Homo sapiens: one gene and its partner. The protein of the gene in region 1 purifies or fractionates together with the protein of each later gene. This does not show direct contact. Each region holds a gene or a part of one and is shown on either strand. Other genes may lie near its edges.

Region 1 (3,500 bases):
CAGCATATTTGTTCAGGAAACATTTGTAGGATGAATGGATGGGTGACTGTATGCATGGATGATGGATCCCACTTTTTTCTTAAAAGTTGGGTGGGAGTAGAGGCCCAGCATTTCGGACTGATTGCCTGGAACAGGAACAACCCCTGTCTCTTCTCAGCTTCCTGTTTACCTGGCAGTCTGACCATTATGGAAAGCTGGAGGGGTGTGGGTGGGAAACACAATTGTTTCCTCCAGTCTTTTTTTGTAGCTCCCTCTTTTGAGGGGGATGGATCATCACACTAACTTCTCTGGTGGCCAGAAAGGGCGGGCACAGATGTGGCTGCCATTGTTAGCTCCTGGGCTCTGAGCACTACTAGGGAGGTGCCCATCTTTTCCTCAGGTTAGAGCATAGCATGGCAGAATTCAGGATTATGAGATGTTTCCAAACTTCTGCTTGCGGAAGTGATATTGCTACTCTGGAAAGGAAATAAAGTTATACAGTGTTCACTTTGATACAGTCTCCAACCTCTTGTAACAAGTTCAGCCAGCTCTGGGAGAACAAAGAGCCCGGAGATGTTAGCATGTGGGAAAGAGACTGTGCAGAGAAAGAACACACAACATTGCTGCCCTCTCTCCCAGGGTCTCTGAAGCACTTCAAGTGAGTGGGATAATAAGGAACTTAAATAGCTCAAGAGCAAAAAAATCTAATAACTGGATTGAAAAATGAGCAAAAGACATTAATAGGCATTTTTCAGAAGAAGACATACAGATGGCTAACAGGTACATCAAACATGCCCAGCATCACTAATCATCAGGGAAAGGCACATCAAAACCACAAGGAAATACCGCACTCCAGTTAGAATGGCTATTACTTGTTTATTTAATTAATGTTTTTCTTAGAATGGCTATTATTGAAAAGACAAAGGAAAAACGTGTTGGTGAGGATATGCAGAAAAGGGAACACTCACACTTGGTAGGATTGTAAGTTAATATTGCCACTATGGAGGACAGTATGGAGGGTCTTCAAAAAACTGAAAATGTAGCTGCTGCATGATCCTGCCGTCCCGCTACTGGGTATATATTCGAAGGAAATGAAATCAGTATGTTGAAGAGATACCTGCGTTCCTGTATTTATTGCATCACTATTTACAATAGCCAAGATACGGAATCGACCTAAGTGTCCAACAAGAGATAAATAAGGAAAATGTGAGATATATACAACAGAACACTATTCAACTATACGAAAGAATGAAATCCTATCATTTGCGACAACATGGTCTTGAACTCTTGACCTCAAGCCATCCTCCTGCCTCGGCCTCGGCCTCGGCCTCTCAAAGCACTGGGATTACAGGTGTGAGCCACCGTGCCTGGCGCATTTGCAACAACATGGATGAACCTGGAAGAGGACATCGTGTTAAGTGAAATAAGCCAGGCACAGAAAGACAAATACTGCATGATCCCACTTATATGTGTAATCTTAAAAAGTTGGTATTATAAAAGCAGAGAGTAGAACAGTGGTTACCAGGATGGGAGAAGATGGATAGGGAGAGGTTGGTCAACAGGTACAGAGTTACAGTTAGATAGGAGAAGTAAGTTCTGCTGTTTTCTTGCACAGTAGGGTGACTGTGGTGGTACCGTGTATTACAGAATAGCTATGAGAATGAGAAGCCTTTGAATGTTCTCACCACAAAGAAATGATAATTGCATGAGGTAATGGATATGCTAACTACCCGAATTGGATAATTATGTAACATATATGAGTATTGAAACATCAAATTGTATCCCATAAATATGTACAATTACAGTGTGATAATTAAAAAATAGTGAGTGGAATAAACATTACTCTAAATAACAAATATCACCACCCAGCTGTGTCCTCTGAAGGATTTGATTTTTCAGGGTTTTATTGCGTGTATTCCTGTATAATCTTGCAATTCTTCTCTTAAATTGGCTGACAATTTAAAAGTTGTAATTTGAATTGATGTTTTCTGCTTTGCAACATGGTTACCTTAAGTCCCTGTTCCTGTCATTGCATTTGTAGTAGTGATGGGCTGATTACCTAAACAGTTAGGGTGAAGGGAGGAAGTATGGTATAGTGAAAAATAGTGTAAAATACAACCTTTGGAGTCAAGGTAAGTAAGTCTGTTCATTAAGAATCTGGACTGAGAGGCTTTGAGTTAGTTTATCCAGTTTCTTTGAGCCTTAGTTATAACTCAGCCTTAAGAAAGGGACAATAATGAATCTTACTTCGGAGGGTTAGAGACTGTTTTCTACAGCAGCGGTACCATTTTTCATTCCCATCAGCAATGCATAATGGTTATGATTAAAATAAGGCTTAGAATTAATAAACAGTATACATCAAGGGCTTAATTGTGCTTGGCACCTGGTAGGTTTGACAGAAGAAAAGCAAAGTACAATTTAAAAAAACTGAATAATGGCTTCTGAGAATAAAGGTGTAAAAACATTTGCATTGTAGTGAAGGACATAAGAAACATTCACTTATCTATTAGTGCAGTATTTAATATGTGTAATTAAAAGATGAAATATTTAAACAACAGCTTGGGTTAAGAATTGCTCAGGAGAAAGGTGTTTTTATAGGATTTGGGCACACGGCTCCTCTCACCACATTAAATCGTAGTGAGTAAAGGGAGCTTCACCTTGTTTCAAATGTTGAGTGTGAGTGCTCATGCTGTGCCTCCAGTGAATCACCTACTGCCTTTGGAAGAGTGTCCTAATGACTGGGGGAGGTGAAACTGACAGGCTAAGGATTCATGTGGGGTTACAAGGCTTGCTCAGAAGGACTCTTATCAGAAGGTTGGAAACTGATGAAGTCCAGCATGGATGTTGCATTTCTTGGCTAGTCTGTCTGAGGTTGGCTGGAGTCCTGCTCATATAGCTGAGTTTGTTGGTGAATTTTGTCTCCTCCAACAGTGAAAGTCTTTGACTTAACAGGGCAGCCTGTTGCATTCTATAGAAGTCCCAGATGTTGGCTCCAGAGTCTTACATGCTTTGGTATTTTTTCTTAAAAGCATAATAGGGAAGAAACCACAAGTAAAGGAAGTAGTTTGATTTTAGGATCATACATCTGAAAAATTAAGTTAAATAACTGATATATCTTTAGGGGCTGATAATCTATTAATAAAAGCCTTGAGGTTTCCAAGAGTTGCATTTAGTGAGAGCATAATAAGGGCAATGTATTTGTAATGAGATAATCAAACAAGGCACGGACTGTGTCACTCCAGGAGATAATATAAGGTACAAATTGTGCAGGTGGTGGGATACTGGAGGGTGGCCTTTTCCACCTAATTGGAACTCCTTAGGAAGAGCTGACAATTATTGAGAGGCTGGTAGCTTGTAAAGAATTCATTTACTAGAAGTGAAGGCAGAAGGATTTTATGATCTTGACTCCACATTTTAGGTGGCACTGGATAAAGGAGGAATTTATTTATTTTTATTTTTATTTTTGGAGACAGAGTCTCGCTCTGTTGCCCAGGCTGGAGTGCAGTGGCGTGATCTTGGCT
Region 2 (4,033 bases), on another chromosome or scaffold:
CCTTGTTTGTGTTTGCGATGTTGCTATGCTTAATGATGACATATGATCACAATTTCAACATGATGTACTTGTTCAGGGATGTCTCAAAGAGAGTTGGGTTCAACGTTTGTCTGTGAGTCCTTTCAAAGGCCAAAGCTGAACAATGAATTTTTGGCCTCACACTAAGATTAGAGCCAAGGCTGGGTGTGGTGGCTCATGCTTGCAGTCCCAGCCCTTTGGGGAGTCCAACTCAGAAGGACTGCTTGAGGCCAGGAGTTCAAGATCAGCCTGGGAAACAGTGAGATCTGGTGTCTAGTCTCTACAAAAAATTTTAATTAGCTGGGCATGGTGATGTGCACCTGTAGTCCTAGCTATTCTGGAGACTGAGGCAGGAGCATCTCTTGACCCCAGGAGTTTGAGGCTGCAGTGAGCTATGATTGTGCCACTGCACTCCAGCCTGGGTGATATAGCACGACTCTGTCTCTAAACAAAAAACAAAACAAAACGAAGACTGAAGCCAAACTTGACTTTATCTTTATTTACTATAAATGCTAATTTTGAATCATGGTGTTAATTTATTTCACACGTCAACATGGTCCCTTGTTCTTTTGAAACTACACTGGCTTCTATCTTGTTTCAGTTATATGGCGCTACTTTCATGACACCCTACTGCGAAAGTATGCTGAAGAAAGAAATGGTGTCAATGTCGTCAGTGGTCCTGTGTTTGACTTTGATTATGATGGACGTTGTGATTCCTTAGAGAATCTGAGGCAGTAAGAACATATTTCATTACTCTTAAAAATAGGAATTACCATCCAGTAGAAATGGGATTACCATCCAGTTGAGTCAACAGAACCTTTTTTATCCAGTGTCGTATGTTTATGTGTATGACACTTCTGACTACACAGGAAGCCTCTTGAAATATCTGATTAATTTTGATGTTTTGCTCAATGTTCAGTAAAATATTTTTAGGTAAAAAAGTAGTGTTTCTCACCCATTCAGTTCAGTTGAATAATTTTTGCACTCAGTTTAAATGCTGAACTCATTTAAGATCTCTGTGTGGCTGATTGTTAAGATATGATCTTAATATATTGTGAGTCAGAAGATGAAGAACTCTATGGTGTGGCTACAGATATCCTGAGTCTAGGAATGAATAGGGTTATAAAGCTGCAGTGCTTGGAGTCTGGTGGCCTTGGGTGAATGTTATGGCTTTTACCCAACTGTGGCTGGAGGGGCATGATAAAAAGCAACCGTCTGAAGGAAACCATCAGTGGTGCTTTTTTAAAAAAGAGAGGGAAAGAACATCTTGGAAACTGGTTGATCTTTATTGAAACAATAATTACAGCAGTTTGGGAAGCAATTTTGCTGTTAAGTCCGTAGGAAAAAGACTGAGATTCCACTGAGATTCAGCCCCTCTCAGAACTTTCCTACTCTCCCAGGCTGACTTAGATATATGTGACTTACAAAATACATCAGAAAGCACATCAATTTGCAAAGTTACAGTTTTTTACTTTCCCTTGAGGCATAAAGCTGCCTTAGAAGCTGTAGCACTGGAGAGGATACAGAAGAGAACTGCATATGCTTCCTACCCACGGCTTCACCCAGAGCCCTCTGTTTAAATCTGTTTTATAGATTATGTTTCTACATAAGGTCATATTTGAAAACAATGATTCCACTGCCTTAAATTTTGAAAGATGTTGAAAAAACAAACACAGCCTTAAAATAGGAGAATGACTATGAGGTAAAGATGTTTGGGACATCTTTGATAATATACTTCAGTTTAAAAAATTAAGTTATTAAGGAAGAAAATCCAGTTAGAACAAACAATTCATGACAACATGTCCTCTCTGAAGGGGCTGGAATAGAAAATTCCTAACCAGTTCTTTCTCTGCCCACTATTTGTCTATAATCGCCTAGAAGTTAAGACTATCAATAATGGTTTACACTCTTGGTCATAGGTGTTCAAAAATGACATTTTCTTTTCTTTAGTGTTTCAATTTCAATGTCTTTAGGTAGAACTAAAAGAATTCTAAAAGTCAATAAACTTCTACAGAAAATAAAAATTATTTGGAGTGTGTTTATCTGCCTGTCTTCTAATTATTGCTCTCAATCTGGCAGAGTATGTTGAGGTATTGTGATTACTAGCTTCTTATATTTAATTATTTGTTTGAATTTGATTTTTATATGTATTAAAAGCATGCTCTACTGAAATATTCATCAAAAGGAAGATAGTTATTTCTTTCTTAAAATGAATATTGGCATGTTTTACAGAAAAAGAAGAGTCATCCGTAACCAAGAAATTTTGATTCCAACTCACTTCTTTATTGTGCTAACAAGCTGTAAAGATACATCTCAGACGCCTTTGCACTGTGAAAACCTAGACACCTTAGCTTTCATTTTGCCTCACAGGACTGATAACAGCGAGAGCTGTGTGGTAAGTAGCTTTTGTATATTTACTTTGCATGTTGAAAATCTAGACATATGCATATTTGTTTATGTCACCCATCTGACATTACAGTGAGAGAAAGCACAACTGAGTACACATGGACTTCGAAATTATAGGATGCTTTTAAATTTGATCTTTTAAGATGACATATCTTTGGGGAAGACTACCCTTGTCTGCTTTTACTTTTTTCTTTTTTTTTTTTTTTTTTTTAGAGATAGGGTCTTTCTATGTTGCCCAGGCTGGTCTTGAACTCCTGGCCTCTTATGATCCTCCTGTCTTGGCCTCCCAAAGTGCTGAGATTGCAGGTGTGAGCCACCCTGCCTGGCCCCTTTGTCTGGTAAAGATACTAAAAATCAGATCAGAATCAAACTTTGTATGGCTTAACCACTAAAGTCTAGGTTTATCTGAGGTATGGATTTTCTCTTTTTTTAAAACTGGATGTATAATTTCAAAGTGTCAGCACTGTTATAAATTAAAGTTGTTAGACAACATTTCAAATTTTCTGTGTATCACTTAATTATAAAAAATCTTTTCCTTTCTTATCGTATTGTCATCCCAGTGTGTTTGGGAATAATTGTTTTATATTATCTTATTTGCTCAGAATTTTAAAAATCTACATTGTAGATTGGGACATCAAGACTGCATAACATTTTAGCAATTTTTTTTTTTTTTTTGAGACAGAGTCTCACTTTGGCTCCCAGGCTGGAGTGCAGTGGCATGATCTCGGCTCACCGCAAGCTCCGCCTTCTGGGTTCACACCATTCTCCTGCCTCAGCCTCCCGAGTAGCTGGGACTACAGGCGCCCGCCACCACACCCAGCTAATTTTTTTTTTTTTTTTTGAGACAGAGTCTCACTTTGGCTTCCAGGCTGGAGTGCAGTGGCATGATCTCGGCTCACTGCAAGCTCCGCCTTCTGGGCTCACGCCATTCTCCTGCCTCAGCCTCCCGAGTAGCTGGGACTACAGGCGCCCGCCACCACACCCGGCTAATTTTTTTTTTTTTTTTTTTTTAGTAGAGATGGGGTTTCACCGTGTTAGCCAGGATGGTCTCAATCTCCTGACCTTGTGATCCACCCGCCTTGTCCTTCCAAAATGCTGGGATTACAGGCGTGAGCCACCGTGCCTGGCCTTTTTTTTTTTTTTTTTTTGGAGTCTTGCTCTGTCACCCAGGCTGGAAGGCAGTGGCGTGATCTCGGCTCCCTGCAACCTCCGCTTCCCGGGCTCAAGCGATTCTCCTGCCTCAGCCTCCCGAATAGCTGGGATTACAGGCACCTGCCACCCATGCCCAGCTAATTTTTGTATTTTTAGTGGAGATGGGGTTTCGCCGTGTTGGCCAGGCTGTTCTCTACCTCCTGACCTCAGGTGATCTGCTGGCCTTAGCCTCCCAAAGTGCGGGGGTTACAGTCATGAGCCACTGTGCCCGGCCCATTTTAGCAATTTTTAAGTTTTCTCTTATGGTGAGCCAAAATATATTTCTTTCAGAGTACTTCCTACATTTCCTTTTTTTTTTTTTTTCATTGAAGTGACACCAAGTAAGTCTAAACCTGAATCTGCAAAAAGATGTAGCTTTCATACCAGTCCCAATGAATGGGTGGTAGGTACCTGGAGT

Evidence for each region.
Region 2: the proteins of TBC1D8 (region 1) and ENPP1 purify together in Homo sapiens (affinity purification with mass spectrometry; one large-scale study listed by BioGRID and IntAct). This does not show direct contact.

The regions. Positions count from the first base shown.
Region 1 is NC_000002.12:101,144,883-101,148,382, reverse strand, and holds part of TBC1D8 (TBC1 domain family member 8), read left to right. Parts: intron 1-3,500. UniProt on the Homo sapiens protein: May act as a GTPase-activating protein for Rab family protein(s).
Region 2 is NC_000006.12:131,884,312-131,888,344, forward strand, and holds part of ENPP1 (ectonucleotide pyrophosphatase/phosphodiesterase family member 1), read left to right. Parts: intron 1-619; coding exon 620-752; intron 753-2,250; coding exon 2,251-2,413; intron 2,414-4,033. UniProt on the Homo sapiens protein: Nucleotide pyrophosphatase that generates diphosphate (PPi) and functions in bone mineralization and soft tissue calcification by regulating pyrophosphate levels.